2 separate regions of the Homo sapiens genome follow, and region 2 is linked to region 1. Evidence: fine-mapped expression QTL. A gene starts in region 1. The other region holds a variant in brackets. All regions are shown on one strand. Distances are from middle to middle. Region 1 holds the start of HSPA9 (heat shock protein family A (Hsp70) member 9). Region 2 has its middle 20 kb from the start of EGR1.

Region 1 (12,105 bases):
AGGGTTTCACCATGTTGGCCAGGCTGGTCTTGAACTCCTGACTTCAGGTGATCCACCCACCTCGGCCTCCCAAAGTGCTAGGATTACAGGTGTGAGCCACTGCACTGGCCAAAAATGAATTTTTTAAAGGGATTACCCTTTTGGCAGTGGTACAGATTTCCCCTAGGGACAATAAGTAAAATTACTAAAGTAAGGTGCTCCAGGGATCCTCATCAACATGCTGAGGCTCTTCTGTGTGGCCCTTGCAAATAACTGCTTTTTGCAAAAAACTTTTGCTGTTACTCACATGTCTTTCTGTACTTCAGGATCATCATATCGCCGGCCAATGAGACGCTTGGTAGCATAAAATGTATTGTTTGGGTTGGTGACAGCCTGTCGCTTGGCCGGCATTCCAACAAGTCGCTCACCATCTGCTGTAAAGGCCACAACTGAAGGGGTGGTTCTGGCACCTTCGGCATTCTCCAGCACCTAAACTCCCAAAATGTGATAGAGAGTAAGTTTGTAGTTATCACTGGTATGTTTTTTGAGATGGAGTCTCACTCTGTCGCTAAGGCTGGAGTACAATGGCACAATCTTGGCTCACTGCAACCTCCGCATCCTGGGTTCAAGCGATTCTTCTGTCTCAGCCTCCCTAGTAGCTGGTACTATAGGCGTGCACCACCACACCAAGCTAATTTTTCGGCATTTTTTAGTAGAGACGGGGGTTTCACCATTTTGGCCAGGCTGGTCTCGAACTCCTGACCTCAGGTGATCTGCCCGCCTCAGCCTCCCGAAGTGTTGCGATACAGGCATGAGCCAATACGCCCAGCCTATTACTGGTATGTTTGCAGCAATCATTTAAGACACAGAAACAGCTCCCAAATTGCGAAACAAATGCACATCAACAATACTACCGGGCATGCTTTACTGCTGATAGTTAATGAACAGTAGATATTTAGTTAAGGTATCTTTAGCCCTTTACTTTCAAACTACTATTTTTTTTTTTTTTTTGAGAGGGAGTCTCGCTCTTGTCACCCAGACTGGAGTGCAGTGGCGCGATCTCGGCTCACTGCAAACTCCCTGTCCTGGGTTCAATTCTCCTACTTCAGCCTCCTGAGTAGCTGGGATTACAGGTGCCTGCCACCACACCCAACTAATTTTGTGTGTGTGTGTGTGTGTGTGTACTTTTAGTAGAGATGGGGTTTTGCCAAGTTGGCCAGGCTGGTCTCGAACTCCTGACCTCAGGCGATCCGCCCACCTTGGCCTCCCAAAATGCTGGGATTACAGGCTTGAGGCACTGCGCCTGGCTTTTTTTTTTTTTTTTGAGACAGAGTCTCACTGTCACCTAGGCTGGAGTGCAGTGGCACTGTCACGGCTCACTGCAGCATTGACCTGCCAGCCTCAGCTGATCCTCCCACCTTAGCCTCCAGAGTAGCTGGGACTACAGGGGCACACCACTATGCCCGGCTAATTTTTTGTAGAGACAGTGTTTTGCTATGTTGCCTAGGGTGATCTTCAACTCCCACACTCAAGTGGCCTCCCCAAGTGTTGGGATTACAGGCATGACCCACCAGGCCTGGCCCTGATTTACATTTTAAAAACTGCTTTGGTTGCTTAAGACTCTTGTCAGGTGAACCTTTGTAGTGCTGATAATTGTATGTATCTAACTTCCCAGAAAAGGATTTAAATGTGGTATAGAGGTAGGACTACTAATTTACTATTAAGAGGGGTGGGAATGGCTTGCACTGTTTGGTTACTCTGGTAACCACCAAAGTGCTGCATTTTCTAAATTGAAACAAAGTTGGGTGTGCAGAGACAGACTAGAAGTGGAGCTTCATCTCTGAAGTAATGCATGTTGTTCATTGGAGCAGGCTATTTCTTTTGAAGCCTCCTTACTCTGTACATGCAACCTTTATTCCCACCGGGTTCTTAGCAAGATTTAGAACACCTGGAATTCTTGACTCTTGCTTCTTCCATTCATGGCCTCTTTTGCTTTCATACTTCCTTTCCCCCCAATCTCCTCTTCTGAAATAACCTGAACTGTCTATGGTCTTCTTATCCCACTTGTTTGGCACCAAGAGATTATTCCTTCTCTTGGCCCTAATTTGGGCTTCTTGGCATTTTTCCTATATGCCTGATATCTGTGGCCAACCCCCCAAAAAACTTAGAAGTAGATATAATTCTCCATGTGGAAGTAAAGATTCTTGTCCCAACATTGGGTATGAAAAACCTGATCTATAGTCTCTTCTTTTTTTTTTTTTGAGACAAAGTCTCGCTCTGTCACCCAGGCTGGAGTACAGTGATGTGATCTTGGCTCACTGCAACCTCCACCTCCTGGGTTCAAGCGATTCTCCTGCCTCAGCCTCCCGAGTAGCGGGGACTACAGGTGTGTGCCACTACGCCCAGCTAATTTTTGTATTTTTAGTAGAGACAGGTTTCACCATGTTGGCCAGAATGGTCTCGATCTCTTGACCTTGTGATCCACCCGCCTTGGCCTCCCAAAGTGCTAGGATTTCAGGTGTGAGCCACTGTACCCGGCCAATTTTTTGCATTTTTAGTAGAGACGGGGTTTCACCATTTTGGCCGGGCTGGTCTTGAACTTGGGACCTCAGGTAATCCACCCCCCTTGGCCTCCCAAAGTGCTGGGACTGCAGGCGTGAGCCATTATGCCCGGTCAGCCCTGATCTATAGTTATGTTTTTGCTGTTTTAGTTGGAAGTACTTCGAGGCCAGGCTTAGTGGTTCACATCTGTAATCCCAGCACTTTGGAGGCCAACGTGGGCGGATCACTTGAGCTCAAGACCAGCCTGGCCAACACAGTGGAACTGTCTCTACTGAAAATACAAAAAATTAGCCAGGAATGGTGGTTCATGCCTGTAATCCCAGCTATGTGGCCAAGGCAGGAGAACTGTTTGAACCCAGGAGGCAGAGGTTGCAGTGAGCGGAGACCGTGCCACTGCACTCCACCATGGGCTATAGAGACTGTCTCCAAAAAAAAAAAAAAAAAAAAAAAAAAAGCGCAAATCAGGTTCTCAAATTCCTTAACTAAGGAAAAGAGCACAGAATTCTGGACAGATTCTGGATAAGGTACTAGTTATCAATCATGCTCACCTTTGCTTGTTTACCTTCCATAACTGCCACGCAGGAGTTGGTAGTACCCAAATCAATACCAACAACTGCTCCCTTGATTGCTTCTGATCTGTAAGACATTTAGAACAGTGTCACAGCTATTGTTATCTTGATAGACCAAAGTCACTGGAAGATAATATTTAATTGGAAAATTAACAGTGGTATACTACATAATCTCTAAATAAATACAGATAAATAATTACAGAGAAGAATAATCACAAATGTAGAAAACACTGCTTTGAAGTTTAATATGTATTCCCTCTCAAAGGAAATGATATTATACTTACGCATAATCCCGCCTTGAAACAAGTCTAAAAGCCTCATGACTAAGGCCATTCCAGCTATCCTAAAAAAGAAAAAACTGACTCAGTCACCAACCAGTGTGTATCCTGGGAGGAAAAAGAGAAAACTTGGGCTCACTTAGTATATAAAATACATTAAGCTACTAAAACAGTAAATATTAAAGTTTCCCAAATAAGTAAGACGAAAAAAGGTAAATAAAAGATGGCCTTAGAATCACATTACAGTAGGATTTCTCAACCGTGGCGCTATTAATTTTGGGCGAAATTTTTGTGGTGGGGGCTGTTCTGTGCATTGTAGGATATACAGCAGCATCCCTGGCCTCGACACCCTAGAAACCAATAAGCACCCCAGTAAGTAAGTGACAACCTAAAATATCCACAGACATTGCCAGATGTCCCCTGGGGGAAAACACTTCCCCTTACCTTGCCGTGCAATTAGTTTAAAAGAACTAGAGTTACTAAGGGTCTTTGAAAGAAAAAAGAAAAGTAGTGGCGTTTCACTAGGATAAAAGACCTTTATTACAACTTAACCTCAGGCTCCTTCCAAGCCTTCCTTAATGCCCACATACAATTCCTGTTCTCTAAAGCATTTGTCTTTTATTTTAGAAAACAAGTAACCACTCCATAGCCTTTTCTCCGCCCCACGATCTGCTTTTTTTTCTGAAGTAACAAACGAGTACAATCTTACACCACAGATTTTGAGAAAATGTTGCTAAGCACGAAAACTGGAGTTCCGACTCAGAGCTTTCTTATTTTATTTCACCGTATCAACGGGATCCTTACACACTCTGTATTCTGTAGAGGAGCCAAAAATAAAACTGAAAATAGTGGCTTTCCCAATAGACTGCATCCCTCACCCCCAAGGCCAAACCTTTCCATTCAGCCACAGAACAGGCCATGAGGACCACTACCTGGTAATTTTGAAATGACACTCTAGATCGCGAGGGGTGTGACTCAGCAGGGCCCAAGCCGGAGGCAAAACCTTGGGCAAAATCTTGACCCGGCAGCGCTAACTATGGAAGGCCCGTTACCTTCCTTCCCGCCTGACCTATACTGGAGAATTCAAACCCTAAAGGGCGCGCGGCCTGCCGCAGCGAAGCCCGAGGCCCAAGGCCCGAGGCCGTGACCCCATTCGGGAAGGTCCCAGTTCCTCACCTGGTGGCGGGCGGCCGTAGGGCCCCGGGAGGCTGCGGCGCCCACGAGACGGGCTGCTGCAGCTCGGCTGGCACTTATCATGGCGGATAAATGGAGGAGTACGAGGCAGCAAACAAGCGCTCCGACGGCAAAGAGCTGCGCGATGCGGTGGCGGCAGCGCTTCTGGAAACCTCCAACCACGTGGGGTGAGGGGCGGGGGTTGGTCACTGCGGCCCAGAGGCCCGCTCTTCCGCTGAGGCGCCGCCCGCGCCGCCTGACCAGAGGATACTCGACTGCCGCTCCCGGAGCCAGGGCGTACAGGTAATATGCTCCGCAGCATGATGGTTGGAGAAAGCCTGCCCTCCTGTCCCGGCTGCGGCGGCTCTGAGCTCAGAAAGAGTCCAGGGGAGGAAGAGGGATATGAAGGCCGTATCTCGGACAGCCCCGGTCCTCGGCGACAGGAAAGACTCAAGGTCACACGGGATAAATTGCGAACCGATTACAGTCTTCTTGCGTCAGTTGCGCGGGAGGAGGAGCCTGTTGGCGCAACAGACATCCAGCTAAGAACCTAGAGCGCATGTGCGCAAGGAGTGGCGGAAAACATGGGTGGAGACTAACTGCGGCGCTCACTGGGTGCCCGAGTGCACGCCAGCGTTCCCTGGGGCGAGCCCGGGCGCGTGCACACCCCCCGGGCGTGGACGTGTTCCCAGCTCCCGCTCCTGGAGGACGGCGCCATCTTGTCTTGTGGCTTTGTGAAGTGAGGACGTCAGTACTTTTGTTGTTTGGTCCCGCCCGTTGTTCACAACTTGAAAGACACTTGGATATGCAGACAGACGTTAAACAATTTCGTGTTGCGTTTTATCACAGGGGTCTTGGGTTTCCAACTACGAAGCGTTTGATTCACACAGAACATTAGGCCAATTAGCCTGCACAAAGGGAAAAAAAAATAGCTGAGCTTGGCCGGGCGCTCACGCCTGTAATCCCAGCACTTTTGGGAGGCCGAAGCGAGCGGATCGCGAGGTTAGGAGATCGAGACCATCCTGGCTAACACGGTGAAACCCCGTCTCTACTGAAAATACGAAAAAGTAGCCGGGCGTGGTGGCAGGCGCTTGTAGTCCCAGCTACTCGGGAGGCTGAGGCAGGAGAACGGCGTGAACCCGGGAGGCGGAGCTTGCAGTGGGCCGAGATCGCGCCACTGCACTCCAGCCTGGGCGACAGAGCGAGACTCCGTCTCAAGAAAAAAAAGAAAAATAGCTGAGCTTCAGGCTCTTCCTCTCCCCACTGTGCTGGGCCTGACTTGAGACTCCTCTGGCCCTTTTTAAACCTTGTGCTGGTGGCAGGATGTCAACTACTTCACTACCCTGTGACCAGTTTTTAGGTTTTTGTTTTTTTTTTTGAGGCAGTCTTTGTCGCCAGGCTTGAGTGCAGTGGCGCCATCTCGGCTCACTGCAACCTCTGACTCCCTGGTTCAAGCTATTCTCCTGCCTCAGCCTCCCAAGTAGATGGGATTACAGGCGCGCGCCACCACGCCCAGCTAATTTTTATATTTTTGGTAGACACCGGGTTTCACCATGTTGGCCAGGATGGTCTCGATCTCCTGACCTCGTGATCTGCCTGCCTCGGCCTCCCAAAGTGCTGGGATTACAGGCGTGAGCCACCGCGCCCAACCCAGTTTTAGATTTTTAAGAAGAGGAATTAATTGATTCAACAGATATGTTTTGGCATGCCTACCGTGTGTCAGTCACTCTCCCAGGTGGTAGGAATACAGCGAAAGCAAAACACGAACGAATGGCTGATGACAGATTGAACTTGATTTTGGAGATGAAGCAATTTGTCCTGGAAGCCCGCTTTCAAAAAAAGAGAAATGTTTCAGACCCCCTATCTCTTCAGGAAGATCTGTATTATTAAGTAGTCACCCCTGGGTGAGGAACTGTGAAGGAAATGTTGGGGAAAGTTGGGGAGGGAAAGAAGCTAACTGAAGAGTTTACATTCTGAGGAGGATGGCAGTGGGAGTAAGAAAATAAACAAAAGTCTAACGTAACATGGGTTATAGATTATATAGATTCTAAAAGTTTTTAAAAAGCCTCCCACACACTCTTAACTGTCAGCTATTACTATATTATCCTCACTAGTTACTTAACACTTCATTTCTCTTGTTTTTAGTTCTCTCAGAAGGCAGGGGTGGCCAGGCGGTGGCTCACGCCTGTAATCCCAGCACTTTGGGAGGCCGAGGTGGGAGGATCACTTGAACCCAGGAGTTCGAGATCAGCCTGAGCGACAGAGTGAGACTCCATCTTTAGCCTCTGTCGCCCAGGCTGCAGTGTAGTGGTGCAGTCTCAGCTTACTGCAGCCTCCACCTCTCTGGGCTCAGATGATTCCAGTGCCGCCTCAGCGCCCCCCTCCCCCGAGTAGCTGGGATTACAGACATGCGGCACTACGCCTGGCTAATTTTTGTATTTTTCGTAGAGACGGGGTTTCGCCTTGTTGCCCAGGCTGGTCTCCAACTCCTGAACTCAAGGGATCCGCCCGCCTCGGCATCCCAAATGCTGGAATTACAGGCGTGAGCCACTGCGGCCGGCCAATTTTTTTTTTTTTTTTTTTTAAATTGGCTGGGCATGGTAGCAAGCACCTGTAGTCCCACCTACTTGGGAGGCTGGAGTGGGAGGATCACTTGAGTTCAGGAATTTGAGAACAGCCTGGGCAACATGGCAAAACCCCATTTCTACAAAAAATTAGCCGGGCATGGTGGTGCACCTGTAGTCCCAGCTACCAGCTACTCGGGAGGCTGAGGTGGAAGAATCACCTGAGCCAAGAGAGGTCGAGGCTGCAGTGAGTCGTGATTATGATTGTGCCATTTCACTCCAGTCTGGGTGACACAGCGAGACATTAAAAAAAACAAAAAACAAAAAAACAGAAAGAAAGGAGAAAGGAAGGAAGGAGGGAGGGAAGGAGGGAAAGAAGGAAGGAGAAAAGGAAATAAGGAAAGGAAGGAAAGAGAAAGAGAGAAAAGAAAGATGCGGCCGGGCGTGGTGGCTCACGCCTGTAATCCCAGCACTTTGGGATGCTGAGGCGGGTGGATCACCTGATGTCAGGAGTCCGAGACCAGCCTGGCTAACATGGTGAAATCCTCGTCTCTACTAAAAATACGAAAATTAACCAGGCGTGGTAGTGGGCACCTGTAACCCCAGCTACTCGGGAGGCTGAGGCAGGAGAATTGCCTGAACCCAGGAGGCGGAGGTTGCAGTGAGTGGAGATTGCACCACTGCACTCCAGGTGACAGAGCCAGACTCCGCCCCCCCCCCCCCCCAAAAAAAAAAGAGAGAGAAAGGAAGAAAAATGAGAAGGCAGGCTTTCTTAAAGGCTATCCAAACAGGCTCATGATTCCTGTTTGTAGAGATTTAGATTCTAAAACAATATACCGATGCAAAGAAGACAGAGGAGTGACAAATAATATTGAACATTGAAATGCAATAAAAAACATTATGTTCTTACGTTGTACATGACGGGGCGGAGAAGGGCAGGTGGAAATAATTGGAGAAACTGCATACTTCTCACTTCTCTGTTGTATTAACTGGTTCTCCTAAGAGTTTTTCTTTTCTTCTTCTTTTTTTTTTTTTTTTTTTGTATTTTTAGTACAGATGGGGTTTCACCATATTGGCCAGGCTGGTCTCGAACTCCTGACCTCAAGAGATCCGCCTTCCTCGGCCTCCCAAAATACTGGGATTATGGGCGTGAGCCACCGCGCCGGCCGAGAGTTCGCTTTCCTTTTTCTTGCTCTATACGTTAAAAAGCCACGAAGTGTTAATCAAAAGAATCCTGGAATTAGGCCGGGCGCGGTGGCTTACGCCTGTAATCTCAGCACTTTGGGAGGCCGAGGCGGGTGGATCACGAGGTCAGGAGATCGAGACCACGGTGAAACCCCGTCTCTACTAAAAATACAAAAAATTAGCCTTGCGCGGTGGCGGGCACATGTAGTCCCAGCTACTCGGGAGGCTGAGGCAGGAGAATGGCGTGAACCCGGGAGGCGGAGCTTGCAGTGAGCCGAAATCCAGCCACTGCACTCCAGCCTGGGCGACAGAGCAAGACTCCGTCTAAAAAAAAAAAAAAAAAAGAATCCTGGAATCAAATGTTGTTATCTAAGGGTGTAGGAAACTACGATCCTATGGGTACATCCAGTGTGTTTGCTGTTTCTGGTGGTTTCTCAGGCGCCTTGCAAATACTCTCCACGACCACAAGGGGGATGTGGTAGCGCTAGATATTCAAAGCACAAGCTTTATCATATCTTCAGCGTGAAGGACAGGCTACTGGACTGCTTTGCAAATTAACATGGGCTACAGCCTGAAGGCTCAAGGAAATGAACCTGAATCTAAAAACATAAAGGTTCAGATGAGCAAGAATGGACAGATCCGTAGCTAAATGGTATAATTCTTCTACAGCACAGTGCTGTATTTCATTTCTGTTGTCATCTCAGTGCAAAATTGGGAAATGGAAGGAGCTAATGCATAATCTGCATGCAGATAAATGTTTACCAAACAGAGCAGGCGGCTGTCCAATACCTGTGTATGCCATACATATATATTATTCAGGAAATAATTATATATGTATAATTATTTTTTCTTTTATAGAGATAGGGTCTTGCTGTGTTGCCTAGGCTGGTCTCAAACTTCTGGCCTCAAGCAGTCCTCCTGGCTCAGCCTCCCAGAGTGCTGAGATTACAGGCGTGAGCTACAATGCCTGGCCTATATTTTTAATAATATTCTAACTGGCATGATTGTTACTTTAGCATATTTGAAGACAGGTAACTAGTTTCAACTTTTAAGTATTTAAATAACTCATTCATTAATAGGAATTGTCATTAGAATAGTAATCACCAATAGTTGTTGAGCGTTCATTTTAAGTGCCTTACAAATGCTTTATATACATTATTTACTGACATGTTCACAACAATAGTCTCAAGTAAATATTATTGGTATTACCATTTTGCAGATGTGGAAACTGAGGCCTAGAGTGGTTACATAGCAATTGAATGGTGAAACTAGAATTTGAAGCCAAACTCTCTTAACTCCAGAACCTGCACTACTAAACACTAGGCTCTGCTGTCTAATAACCAAGCTAGGTCTTATCTTTTACCTCTACTTTCACATATCCAGAAGGTGCGTTTTATAATACTGGCCTAATACATTATTAATAGCAGTTATTTTAGGCAGCAGAATTAAAAAGTTAGAAATACTTTAACCTTTTTTAGAATTATTTAGGTTCCAGGACAACTATAAAGTTCAATCTGTATTATAACTCATAGGATCAAGTTTATATTTTTAAAGTAAAGTCTCTTTAAACTGGTGACTCAGAAGACATTTTATTCAGTTTCCCCAGAGATGAATAGCATGCTGTGGCACTTTCCATCTTCAGGAAATAAAAATGTGGCATACTGCAGGGATTTGTCACCTTTGTTCTCCTTGGAATTTTTCATGTACCTTTGGCAGATTTCAGGAGACAGTTCCCACTTTTCTCTTTTGGCATTAGCTATACTCTATTGGAGTGCATTACACAGTGTCGCTCCACTCAAGTCTGGTTCAACAGAGCTTGCCCCAGCAAAGTGTAGGAAGAATTATGGCAGGTGATGTCCCTGGCCCCAGAAGTGGTGACAATTAGCAAGTTTCATTCTATGGTGAATGCCTAGTAACCCACCAACCTGCCCTCTTTCTGTTAGGAGAAAAGAGAAATACAGGATGACCCTAAAAGAAAAGTAAGGCAGCAATAAATCAAAATAAGATGTCACTTTGATTAGATAGGACATTTACATTCCAGTGACAATGTAGTCTCATTGCTCAAGGTAGAAAGCAGTCAGTTATGCTCACTCTGGATTTTCAATCAGGTTTGGAAAATAGTTGGCTATTGGATAGGCCAAGGCCTTGTGCAAGAAGTTCCTACTGGGAGTGGGGAGGGCTGACAAAACAAGAGATTTGCTCCTCATGAAGATCTATTTAATATTTAATTCTTAAAGATGTAGGAGCCTTTTCTGGATTTTTTAGTTTAGAGGGCCAAGTTTGTAATTTATTCTTGACCAGCATGATATAGTGTGAAAGGAACCCTGAACTAGCCGTTAAGCCTGAACTTGGGTTCTAGAAACCTGGAAAGAACCTTAGATAAAGAACAGAGAGAATCAGTGAATTGCCCAAGGTCACACAGACTGTTCCAGCTTCTGCTCTACAGCCTCCTTTTTTAACTTGCTATGCTTTTTAGAAATAACCCACATGACTTCAGGTTAAATGTTTAGTCAGTCCAGGACCTTTTTCAAATGCTTACAGACAATTCTGGCTCATCACCCTCTTCCTCCTATCCTGTCCTCACCCTTTCAGGCACATGATTAGTGAAATTACGTCAGTTGCCTTTTCAGTTCGCTTAGATTATATGCTCTCTCTATGCGAGGAGCTGTTGGTTTCTGCTATAGACTGAATGTGTGTGTCCCCCAAAATTTATGTGTTGAATCCCTAATTCCCAATATGATTATATTTGGAAATGGGCCTTTGGGAGGTGATTAAATCATGAAGATGGGCCCTCATGATGGAATTAGTGCCTTTATTTATTTATTTATTTATTTATTTATTGAGTCAGAGTCTCACTCTGTCACCCAGGCTGGAGTGCAGTGGCGATCGCAGCTCACTGCAAGCTCCGCCTCCCGGGTTCATGCCATTTTCCTGCCTCAGCCTCCCGAGTAACTGGGACTACAGGTGCCTGCCACCACGCCCGGCTAATTTTTTGTATTTTTAGTAGAGACGGGGTTTCACCATGTTAGCCAGGATGGTCTCTATCTCCTGACCTCGTGATCCACCCGCCTCAGCCTCCCAAAGTGCTGGGATTACAGGCGTGAGCCACTGCGCCCAGCCGGAATTAGTGCCTTTACAAGAGGAAACAGGAAAGATGATCTCCCCTTCCCCATGAAGAGAGCCCACACCAGAACCCACCATGCTGGCACCCTCATCTCAGACTTTCAGCCTCGGGAAGTGTAAGGAAGAACTGTCTATTGTTTAAGCCATCCAGTCTACAATATTTTGTTGTAGCAGCCTGAGCTGACCAAGACAGTTTCTCAGTTTCCCCATTCCTGTTCCTCAACTGTCAAGAGAGGAAATACCCAGGTTTCCTTAGGAGATGAGAGTTTAATGGAAGACTAGTTGGGAAAGTAAAGCCATTGTCTCAATACCCATACAGCCAGAATGCTGGAAGAACAGGGACTTCTTAGTCAGGCTCCATCAGGAGCTGTAGCGGCCAGTTACCTGTTTTCTTCTTAGAAATGGATTTCTGGTGTTCTCATCTGCACTGACTCTGCCTTTTTCTAGCTCAGCCTTTTTATGTTAGCTTCTCTAATTCTTGTGCTGCAATGGTACCCAAACTTCAGTAGCAGTCAGAATTACTAGGTGGTTCTTTAAGCATGCAGAGCACTGGTATCCCACCTCTGGACATTCAGGTCTGAGATGGGTCGTGGAATCTGCATGTTTAATAGAGGGGGATTCTGTCGGTGGGGTGGAGATTAAGGACCACGTCTTTTTAGAAATAGCCCAAAC
Region 2 (12,105 bases), 91 kb before region 1:
CAGTTTTCCTGAGGGCTACAAGCACGTACTCAGAGCCTTGTAAAAGTTCATGCCACCCGGGAGGTGGAGGTTGCAGTGAGCCGAGGTCTAGCCACAGCACTCCAGCCTGGAGACAGAGCGAGACTCCGTCTCAAAAGGAAAAAAAAAAGTTCATGCCTTCTTTCCTAGCAATTCTACCACGACTGCTTTTAATCACAGTATTATGTGTAATGGAGAAAAATGGCAACAGCATACATGTCTGATGGGTGATGGCTGAAATAAACTGTTATATCATATGATGAATTACTAGGCAGTCATTATAAATCATGTTATAAAATAACTATTGACCTGAAAATGCTCACAATATAATACTAAGGAATGAAAGTAAGATATAAAACTTTACATGGTACGATTCCAATTTTATAAAATACATGCACATATAACATCATTATACATCAAATGCTGGTGATTGTCATTCTAGGTAGTGTATTTTTTTTTTTGAGACAGGGTCTCACTCTGTCAACCAGGCTGGAGTGCAGTGGCGTGATCTCAGCTCACTGCAACCTCCGCCTCGCAGGTTCACGCCATTCCCGAGTAGCTGGGACTACAGGCACCCGCCACCACGCCCAGCTAATTTTTTATATTTTTGGTAGAGACGGGGTTTCACTGTGTTAGCCAGGATGGTCTTGATCTCCTGACCTCATGATCCGCCCTCCTCAGCCTCCCAAAGTGCTGGGATTACAGGCATGAGCCACCGTGCCCGGCCTCTTTCTTTTCTTTCTTTTTCTTTTCTCTTTTTTTTTTTTTTTTTGAGACGGAGTTTTGCTCTTGCCCACGCTGGAGTGCAGTGGCGTGATCTCGTCTCACCACAACCTCTGTCTCATGGATTCAAGCAATTCTCCTGCCTCAGCCTCCCGAGTAGCTGGGATTTCAGGCATGCTCCACTACGTCTGGCTAATTTTATATTTTTAGTAGAGACGGGGTTTCTCCATATTGGTCAGGCTGGCCTCGAACTCCCGACCTCAGGTGATCCTTCCTCCTTGGCCTCCCAAAGTGCTGGGATTACAGGTGTGAGCCACCGTGCCCAGACTAACTTTTATTTTCTATACTTTTCTGTGTTTTCCAAATGAGCTGATTTTTGTTGTTGTTGTTGTTTGTTTCTGAGACGGAGTCTTGCTCTGTCGCCCAGGCTAGAGTGCAGTGGCGTGATCTTGGCTCACTACAACCTCCACCTCCTGAGTTAAAGCGATTCTCCTGCCTCAGCCTCCTGAGTAGCTAGTGCTGTGCCACCACGCCTGGCTAATTTTTGTATTTTTAGTAGAGATGGGGTTTCGCCATATTAGCCAGGCTGGTCTTGAACTCCTGACCTCAGGTGATCTGCCCTCCTTGGCCTCCCAAAGTGCTGGGATTACAGGTGTGAGCCACTGTGGCCGGTGAGCAGATGTTTTTATCATTGGAAGAAAATTGTTCTATTTAAGAAAGCAAAAGAAAAAGACTAGATAAGCAAGTAAATATTTTCTAGAATCTGGTTTATTATAAAGGTCCTCTGATGGACTATTTTCTTGCATTGCGGGAGTATGACCCTTTGATAATAAGCTGTTAAAGACTGGTAAAAAATAAAGATGGGTCCAGGTGGAATGGCTGATACCTATAATCCCAGCACTTTGGGAGGCTGAGGCAGAAGGATGGTTTGAGACCAAAAGTTCAAGACCAGCCTGGGCAACATAGAGAGACCCTGTCTCTACAAAAAGTACAAAAAATTAGCTGGGTGTGGTGGCACATGCCTGTAGTCGCAGCTACTAGGGAGGCTGAGGTCAGAGGATCGCCTGAGACCAGGAGTTTGAGGCTGCAGTGAGCTATGATCTTCACTGCACTGCAGCCTGGGCAACTAAGCGAAACCTAGCCTCAAAAGAAAACAAAAGAAAACACGCCTGGCACGGTGGCTGATGCCTGTAATCCCAGCACTTTGGGAGGCCGAGGCGGGTGGATCACTTGAGGTCAGGAGTTCAAGACCAGCCTGGCCAACATGGTGACACCGCATCTCTACTAAAAAAAAAATACAAAAATTAGCCAGGCATGGTGGCAGGTGCCTGTAATCCCAGCTACTCAGGAGACGGAGGCATGAGAATCGCTTGAACCGGGGAGGCGGAGGTTGCAATAAGCTGTGATTACACCACTGCACTCCAGCCTGGGTGACAGAGTGAGACTCTGTCTCAAACAAAACAAAACAAACAAACAAACAAAGATGGGAAAGATTTCCTAGGGACTCAGGCCTCTAGGCTTTTGCTGAGCGGATGCAAGTTGTTTAACATTCCCCGTAAGTGGATGGTCTGTCTGTTAGAGGCTGGCGGGATAGAAGCACCAGACAACTGCTGTTGGCTTCTAAATTTGGGGGCTGTAGGTTTTTTAAAAACCAGAAAGTGTTATTTTATTAGTTCATCAAGCTCCCTCAACTATTTCTTAGAGAACTCGTGAGATCTCGCCCCCATCACTGAATTCTCTTTCCATCTTCATTCCCCATGTACAACTCACACAAAGCACTAGGCTCAAAGCCTTTCTCTTAAATATCTTTCTTTTGCTTATTACTGAATTGGTGTTAGCCAGGTGTTCCTGTTGGTTATTCTTGGGTCAGACTTTGTTTTTATTGTTCTACAATTTCGTAGGCACCCCTTAGAAAGAAGAGCTCAAGTCTGGGTGACTCTCTTGGGGTCATCCTCAGTACTAGTTCATCCAGAGTCTATGTGGCTCCTTTGCTCTATCATGAATAGATCAAAATTTATCCAAGATGTATTATCAAATACCTACTTTATGTCAGGCCCTAAGCACATACAGATAAACAGGATAGAGTCTGGGGCAGCACCACATTGCATGCAGAAAGATTCAGAAAGAAATAATTACCATAGTGTGATATATGAGAGGTGTGTACAGAGCAGGGAGTGACTAATTCTGTCAAGAGGAGAGATGGAGGAATGGGGTGTAGAAGGAAGACCAGGAGTTCACAGGAGGACGTGCGGGCAAGGGAACAGCAAGTGCAAAGCCAGGGAGGTGTGTTCAGGAACCAGCAAATTAATGGTGGGGCGGCAGGAAGTACGGAGGGGAGGGGCAGGGAATGTGGCTGGAAGGGCAGGTTGGGGCCAGATTTGGAAGGCCCTCAGTAACAGTCCAAGGGGTTGTACTTTTCCTGAAGGCAACAGGGACTGAGATGGCATTAGTGTGTTGGCACGCCACTACTTTTGATGGTGTTTCTGGGTGTCTGAAAAGCTACACTGCTTCCTGTCTCCTCAGGAGAGTCCTCTACTTCTGATGTAGCAATAATAACAGTAATTTAGATGGATCACTTCGGACTGTATGCATGCCTTTTAATTTCAGCTTTCAATAAGGTCTGGGATACCTGAAACGCAACTATTCAATCTTTTCTCTTTTTTTCTTTTTTGAGACGGAGTCTCGCTCTGTCGCCCAGGCTGGAGTGCAGAGGTGCGATCTCGGCTCACTGCAAGCTCTGCCTTCCAGGTTCACGCCATTCTCTTGCCTCAGCCTCCCAAGTAGCTGGGACTACAGGCGTCCACCACCACGCCCGGCTAATTTTTTGTATTTTTAGTAAGGACGGGGTTTCACCGTGTTAGCCAGGATGGTCTGGATCTCCTGACCTCGTGATCCCCCACCTTGGCCTCCCAAAGTGCTGGGATTATAGGCGTGAGCCACTGCACCCGGCCCACATATATGTAAATTCTAAAAATAAATTCTAAATATCAATTTTGTGGCTAGATCAAACTTCATAATTTTTATTGTAGAAAATCTTAAATATCCTCAAAAGTAGGGGGAAATGATGTAATAACCTCCCTGTATCTATCAACCAGTTCAACAATGATCATTTCACAGCAGTCTTGTTTCTTCTATAACACCCTCTTCCCTACCCTCACCCCCACACACTGGATTATTTTGAAGCAAATCCCAGACATTATATAATTTCATCTGTAAATACTTCAGTGTATATCTTCATAAGTATTTTTAAGTTCTTTTGCTGGAATCAGAACCCAAAAAAGACCACACTTTGCATTTGGTCGATGTCTTTAAAGTTTCTTTTCAGCCACAATAGTTCCTTTTGCTATCTATTTGTTGAAGAAAACAGGTTATTTGTCTTGAAGAAAACAGGTTATTTGTCCTGAAGAATTTCCCACTTTTTGAATTGTACACATTGCCTTGTTTCCCCCCTTATAATTCTGTTCAATATGTCCTTTTATCCCATCAATTTCACATAAACTGGTTGTTACACCCAGAGGCTGGATCCGACTCGGGTTCACTTTTTAGGTGATGCTATACACTTGGTATTGCAACATAACAAGAAGTACATAATTTTTAGGGTTTTATTTTTTTTCTCTCTCTCTTTAGTTTCCTATATGGGATTTCTAAATGGTGAAATATAATTCACATAACATAAAATTCTCCATTTAAAGTGTACAGGCCGGGCGCGGTGGCTCAAGCCTGTAATCCCAGCACTTTGGGAGGCCTAGGCGGGCAGATCACGAGGTCAGGAGATCGAGACCATCCTGGCTAACACGGTGAAACCCCGTCCTTACTAAAAATACAAAAAATTAGCCGGGCTTGGTGGTGGGCGCCTGTGGTCCCAGCTACTCGGGAGGCTGAGGCAGGAGAATGGTGTGAGCCTGGGAGGCAGAGCTTGCAGTGAGCCGAGACCGCGCCACTGCACTCCAGCCTGGGCGACAGAGTAAGACTCCATCTCAAAAATAAAAAATAAAAAAATAAAAATAAAGTGTACAATTCAATGAATTTTAGTATATTTGTAGTGTTGCACATCCGTTGCCACTAATTCCAGAACATTACAATTATCCCCAAAATAAACCCTGTACCTGTTAGCAGACACTCTCCATTCCTTACCACCCCCTGCCCCCAAATCACTGACAACTACTAATCTACTTTCTGTCTCTACCAGTTTGCCTGTTCTGGATATTTCATATACATAGCATTAAATAATATATGGCCTTTTGTGTCTGGCTCCATTCGCTGAACATAATGTTTTCAAGGTTCATCCATTTTGTAGCATGTCTCAGTACTTCACTCCTCTTTATATCTGAATCATATTCCATTATATGGACACACCACATTTTATTTATCCATTCATCAGTTGATGGACATTTGAATTGTTTCCACTTTTTAGCTATTTGAATAATACTTGTTGCTGTGAACATTATGTACAGGTTTCTGTACAAA[C/G]ATATGTTTTCAATTCTCTTGGTTAGTTCTCTTTTTGTGTGCGTGATGTTAAAATGAATTAATCAGCCAGGTGCCTGTAGTCCCAGCTAATCAAGAGGCTAAGGCAGGAAGATCCTTTGAGCCCAGGAGTTTGAGGCTATAGTGAGCTATGATTGCACCTGTGAATAGCCACTGCACTCCAGCCTAAGCAACATAGGAGACCCTGTCTCTGAAAAAAACCCAGATTGATTGATGGGTCCAAGTATCACTGGCATTACAAAGTTTCTCTATACCTTTCATGCAATGGTTACAGAAATCTCCGATGATCAATGATCCTTATCTAAATCTATTATCTCATTAGGGGTTAAAAGGGTGATTTTATTTATTTTTTGTTTTTCTATTTTTTTGAGATGGAGTTTCGCTCTTGTCACCCAGACTGAGCACAATGACGTGATCTCGGCTCACTGCAACCTCCTCCTCCCAGGTTCAAGCGATTCTCCTGCTTCAGCCTCCTGAGTAGCTGGGACTACAGGTGCACGCCATGATAACCGGCTAATTTTTGTATTTTTGGTAGAGATGGGGTTTCACCATGTTGGCCAGGCTGGTCTTGAACTTCTGACCTCAAGTGATCTGCTCGCCTTGGCCTCCCAATGTGCTGGGTTTACAGGCATGAGTCAATGTACTTGGCCAAAGGGTGATTTTATAATTCTATCATTCCGTTTGCATTTGTTAGCCAGAATTTTTCTAGACTAAATCATAATTGTAAAGAAAGCACGATAAATACTCAAGTCTCTTCTTTCATTTGTCAAATGACAATATTTTGTACTTTCCTGTATGGAACCCCAAAGACATTCTGAATGTCAGCTGGGCGCAGTGGCTGACACATGTAATTCCAGCACTTTGGGAGACTGAGGCGGGCGGATCACGAGGTCAGGAGATCGAGACCATCCTGGCTAACACGGTGAAAACCCATCTCTACTAAAAATACAAAAAATTAGCTGGGCATGGTGGCGAACGCCTGTAGTCCCAGCTACTCGGGAAGCTGAGACAGGAGAATGGCGTGAACCCGGGAGGCGGAGGTTGCAGTGAGCCGAGATCGTGTGACTGCACTCCGGCCTGGGCGACAGAGCGAGATTCCGTCTCAAAAAAAGAAAAAAAAAAAAAAGAAATTCTGAATGTCTACATGGTCAAGGCTCTCCATGGAGTTGCAAATAAAAAATTATGATCCTGGCCTGGTGCGGTGGCTCAAGCTTGTAATCCTAGCACTTTGGGAGGCCGAGGTTGGAGGATCACCTGAGGTCGGAAGTTCAAGACCAGCCTGACCAACATGGAGAAACCCTGTCTCTATCAAAAATACAAAATCAGCCAGACGTGGTGGCGCATGTCTGTTAATGCCAGCTACTCGGGAGGCTGAGGCAGGAGAATTGCTTGAACCCAGGAGGCAGAGGTTGTGGTGAGCCAAGATTGCGCTATTGCACTCCAGCCTGGGCAACAAGAGCGAAACTCCGTCTCAAAAAAAAAAAAAAAAAAAAAAAAGGATTATGATACTGGAGACAGAAAACAAAAATAAATCCAATCTTGACTTGGAAAACTACAGGGTGTCTACTTAATGCCTCAGAGCAATACTGTACTCTATAAAATTCCTCCTAACCTTTCCTTTCTACCCCCTCTCTTTCCCTTCTCTCTTCCCCTTCCTTGTTCTTTATTATATAGATGGATTTAGCCTCTCTGCCTAAGTCCTTCTTTCTCCCAGCCTCTCTAGCTCTCCATCTCCTCCTGTCTCTAACCAGCACCCTCACCCACTCATTTTGATTCTGCATCACAAAAGATGCCGGACTGGGGATGGCTGAGAGCAGACTCTTGGAGTTGGGAGTGGGCATGAATTCTGAGCTGGAAACCTTTTGTGGATGGGTGAGAGGAGAGAAAACAGGGAGAAACACTCAAACTAATGAAGCTTATTTCCATCACATGTATTTTCTGCAATGAGCATGAATCACATATGGTGGAATAAAAAATAAATAAATAAAATGTTTTAAAAATAAGAGATGGTAGGGAAGGAAGTAAGCACTATTCTTTCTCAATTTCCAGTTCCCCTTCTTCTCCATACAGACTGCAGCATCCTTGGCTTTCTGTTCCAGGGCAAGTGAAGTGGAACCTTTCCTCTGACTCAGGATTTAAAGTGTTTCCCACCCCCTCAGGCCCACAGCGTGGGTGGCAGCCTTGGAGTCATGCTCCTGTCACCATGCAGAGGAGCTCTGTGAGCTATGGGAGCCAGGCTGGCTAAAGGCCTTCAGTGATAGATGAGAGGTCTCCCTGATTTTTTTGTTTGTTTGTTTGTTTGTTTTTTTGAGATGGAGTCTCGCTCTGTCACCCAGGCTGGAGTGCAGTGGCGCGATCTCGGCTCACTGCAAGCTCCATCTCCCGGGTTCACGCCATTCTCCTGCCTCAGCCTCCCCAGTAGCTGAGACTACAGGCACTCGCCATCACGCCCGGCTAATTTTTTTTATTTTTAGTAGAGATGGGGTTTCACCATGTTAGCCAGGATGGTCTAGTTCTCCTGACCTCGTGATCCACCCGCCTCGGCCTCCCAAAATGCTAGGATTACAGGCGTGAGCCACCGCGCCCGGCTGAGGTCTCCCTGATTAAAACTGCTGGGCTTGGCTGGGCCCGGTGGCTCATGCCTGTAATGCCAACACTTTGGGAGGCCAAGGCAGGTGGATCACTTGAGGTCAGGAGTTCGAGACTAGCCTGGCCAACATGGTGAAACCCCATCTCTACTAAAAATACAAAGATTAGTGACCATTTGTGTGGTGCAGTTGGTTGGTGTGCTTGCCTCCAACTCTGGAGATGGGCGCCCATTCTGGGGAGTTTCTCTTGCATTTTGGCCAGGCACGGTGGCTCACGCCTATAATCCCAGCACTTTGGGAGGCCAAGGTGGATGGATCACGAGGTCAGGAGTTCAAGACCAACGTGGCCAACATGGTGAAACCCCGTCTCTACTAAAATACAAAAAATTAGCCGAGCATGGTGGTGCGCACCTGTAGTCCCAGCTGCTGGCTAAGGCAGGAGAATCACTTGAACCCCAGAGACAGAGATTGCAGTGAGCCGAGATCACACCACTGCACTCCAGCCTGGCGTGGTGGCACGTGCCTGTATTCCCAGCTACTCAGGAGGCTAAGGCAGAAAAATCACTTGAACCTGGGAGGCGGAGGTTGCAGTGAGTGAAGATGGTACCACTGCACTCCAGCCTGGGCAACAGAGCAAGACGTGGTCTCAAACAAACAAACAAACAAACAAAAAACTGCTGGGCTCTCCAGCCTCTTCTCCAAGAAGCACCTCCTTGGGTCTTCAGGAGATCTCCCGAGGCTGTTCAATGGAGACATCTTGGTCTCTTAGGAAAATTTCAAGGCTTGGGAAGGGTAGTGGAGACCTCTCAAGTCTCCTGCTTCTGGAGTCCGGGTTGGGAGAGAGAGTCCAGTTGACAGCCAGAGTCCCAAGACACAGGGCCCCGTATCACCCATGCCTATCTGTCCACGCCCCATACATGCTCTGGTGGCAAGTGTGAACAAACAAAGTGAACAGCAGCCAAGTTTTAATCTGTGTGTGGAGCACTAGGGAAATGTAGGTGTGGGCAGATTTTTGTGGTCTCAGCCTATCTGAGCAGGAGCCCTAGGGGCGGTGAAGAAGCCTTGGTGAGTCAGGAGACAGCAGGGCAAAAAGGACAAGCACACGTGCTCTGGAGTCACACAGACCCAAATTCTGAGCCCTTGGTCTGCCATTTACATACTTCATGATCACAGGCAAGTTCCCTACTTCTCTGAACCTCAGTTTTCACCTGTAGAAAATGGGAGTAATTCTCATTCTAGTAGGTGTTAAAAAAAATAAGAAATTTAAAATAATTAAAGTTTTAAAAAAAAGCAAAATAAAATGGCCATAATGGTTTCATCTCATTGGTTTATGCGGGTTAAATGAGGCAATGTCTACAGAGTGCTGGGCTGGCTCTCTTTTTTTAAGAGATAGAGTCTCACTCTGTCACCCAGGCTGGAGTGCAGTGGCGCAATCTCGGCTCACCGAAGCCTCGACCTCCCAGGCTCAAGCAATCCTCCCCTACTTCAGCCTCCTGAGTAGCTGGGACTATAGGCAGGCACTACCACGCCTGGCTAATTTTTGTATTTTTGGTAGCGAGGGGGTCTCGCCATGTTGCCCAAGCTGGCCAAATCTCTCATAAATTGGGAGTTGTTACTGAGGAGTCCATATGCCTCAATTTCCTTATCTCTAAAACAGAGATAACAGTAGGATTACCTGAGGGGGGATTAAATGAGATAATAAATGAAGAGTGGTTGACACACTGTGGGTAAATGTTAACTATTAACACTATCAACACCTTCCCTGTTTTGCTCAAGGTCAAAACCCGATAGTTCCCTCCTCTTCTTGCTTTCTCCCTGACCCTGTTCCATTTGCCAGGAAATGACCCTTCTTATCTTTTTGGACAGAAGAATGCACTCAGAAGAGAGCACGTGGGAGAGCAGGAGGAGATCCAGGGGTCTCTGTCCTTGCTGAGACCTGCGTCTCCCCTCCCACCGCACTCAGACCCAGGGCTTTCCACGAGCATCTCTCTTGGACAAAGCTCTGCCCAAGGGTTCATTTTAGAGACTTCTGTAACTCAAGAGGATCAGTATTAATCTTCCCCACCTACAAGATGAGTGGCAGCCCAAAGCCAAGTGCTTCCCAGCCAGGGAGAGAAAGACATGGAAGTTCCCTTCTTTTCTGTGTCTCTCCCCGCCTCCTTTTTGCGGGGGAGCTGAATGTGCTCCTCTGGAGGGACTGAGGGAAGCCAGGGCTGGCTCAAAAGTGATTTTGCCTAGATGAAGCTGGCAGCTGGGAACCACTTTCCCTCCGCTTGCCCTCTGCCGGGGAAACTCCATGACGGAGACAAGGCAGCTGGCAGGGAGAAGCCTCTGGATTGGGGCTGCTGGGGCTGCTGCAGTGCCAGGCAGGGCCACACAGGAACACATGGGCCCAGAGGCAGATGCTGATGCCACCTTTCCTTGCTGAGGACTCCCTAGAAAGGCAGTGCCTTGGAGCCTGCGGGGAAGACTATCTTTACCTGTAGCACAGAAGCAAATATAAAGGAACACAGAACTAGTGGAAAAGGTACGGGGTTGGGCTCTGAAGAATGGGGTCCCAGCCCTGGTGCTGCCACTCCACGGCCGTGTGATTTTTGGTCAAGGTGCTTAAGATCTTTCCCCAAATTCTAGTTTCCCTATTTGCAAAATGAATGTTGTAATACGTCCCTCATAGGAACTGTGCAGAGAATTAGTTGAAATGATGTATGGGAAGCTGGGACACGGGAGATGGCTAATAAATATTCATTTATTCCACAGAGGAATCGAAGAGAAAGGAAATCGCTGGATTTTGGAGGCTTTATGATTTATCAGCTTATTCTATGGAATTAAGCCCTGGGCATCATGCTATTTGTCAGGGGCCTGGTTCTAGCGAAGATATGTGTTTATCTTTCACTATGAGATCCCAAGAGTCTCCCGAAATATTCTGGGCCTCAGAACTGGTTTCTCTGGGTGGCAGAGTATCAGAACACAGGGCAGAAGGAACCTGTTCCTCAGAGATCCAATCGACATCTCCCTTAAGCCTTTTGCTGCCCTCCACGAACCCATCCTTTTGTGCTGCCAGCTCCATGTCCCCATTCCGGGGGAGGCCAGAATGACACATCTACATGTCACCCCGTAGTCTACAATGTCGGGAAGGAGCTGTGTCCCTGCTGGAATTGAAAAACATCCTTGAGGGCTGCAACTTTTACAGGGAAAGTTACCATGCCAACGACAGCCTCCTTGCCTGACAGGGATGAAAGGAAACAAGGCTGTGGGTGACATGCATCTATTGTGTGTCCACAAACTTGCCTGGAATCTATCAGGGACTGCGGACTGCTGCTCAGCAGGATGGAACAGGAGGATTCAGGTTAGATTTCAGTGGGACTCCGGGATGGGCAGGACTGATGAGGGCAGGGCAGGGCCAGCAAGCGAGGATTGGGAAATGCTTCTCTGAGATTGATACCCATCTCTTGGTGAAATGTGTGGGTGTGGTACTGACAGCAGGCGTGGGAGGGGACGGTGTCCTAGATACCAGTTTCTGGCTGTGATGGGAACCTCGACTTCCCCCAGGTTCTTTCTGCCTTCACAGGATGGTCTAGGAGGTTACCTATGCTCTGGGTTAGATAGAAGAGGGCATGGCAGGTCACTGGGGCAGTGGGGCCACAGGCATGCCTATGGAGAAGGCCCAGTCTTGGCGAGGAGGCCCCAAGATGCCTAAGGAGGAGCGTCTCCTTCAAGGGGCAGGGCTTCCAGGGAGAATGGCCCCCACTCCCGAACAGGGAAAGGGCACAGAGGACTGAGGAGCTGGCACTGCCGAAGCACCTACGCCACGTCAGGCACTTGACACAGCCCCCATTTCATTTAATTATCTCCACAAACCTGCACAGCAGGAACTCTCACTCCCATTTCACGGAGGAGATGAGGACACAGGCTCAGGAGAAGGTGAGTACCCGTCCCAGCATCACCCGGCTGGCAAGGGGAGACGCTGGGGCTGGAACCTCGCTGTCTGAACTGGAAAGGAAAACTCCACATTCAGGGTGCCCTATTTTCTTCTGGAAAGATCTCTCCCGAAGCCGTCCGCTCCTCATTCTGCCCTTCGTACAGGCTTCCCGGGCCTGAGACGGCTGGGAAGAGGCTAAAGGGGCACGACCAGCCGGCGTCTGGGAAACCGCTCCTGCAGCCTGCAACTGCGAGGGCCCGGGGCCGCCACGCGGGCCCCCCGGCAGCCTCTCGTTTCACCCCAGCCTCCGGAGAGGGCCCGAGGCTCAGAGACGAAGGCACTGCACCCAAGGCCACAGATCGTGCATGGCTT

Evidence for each region. PIP is the estimated chance that this variant, and not a neighbour inherited with it, causes the effect.
Region 2: its variant is the best candidate, but not a certain one, in a credible set for the expression of HSPA9 in whole blood (INTERVAL, PIP 0.56).

Annotation. Positions count from the first base shown.
Region 1 is chr5:138,570,674-138,582,778 of GRCh38, forward strand. HSPA9 (heat shock protein family A (Hsp70) member 9) reads right to left here and starts at 4,728. Exons shown (of 17, transcript NM_004134.7): 1 at 4,565-4,728; 2 at 3,395-3,453; 3 at 3,090-3,177; 4 at 287-468. The coding sequence starts at 4,645. LOC105379193 (a long non-coding RNA gene) reads left to right here and starts at 405. Exons shown (of 3, transcript XR_001742900.1): 1 at 405-493. RefSeq lists enhancers at 4,309-4,956, 4,473-4,522, 4,763-5,042, 4,957-5,605, 5,183-5,322 and 1 more.
Region 2 is chr5:138,479,850-138,491,954 of GRCh38, forward strand. No RefSeq gene overlaps it. Among named protein-coding and RNA genes, the nearest start is that of EGR1, 20 kb to the left of the region's middle. RefSeq lists enhancers at 11,150-11,843, 11,844-12,105 and a silencer at 11,995-12,105. The variant C/G (reference allele first, on the strand shown) is at 5,209.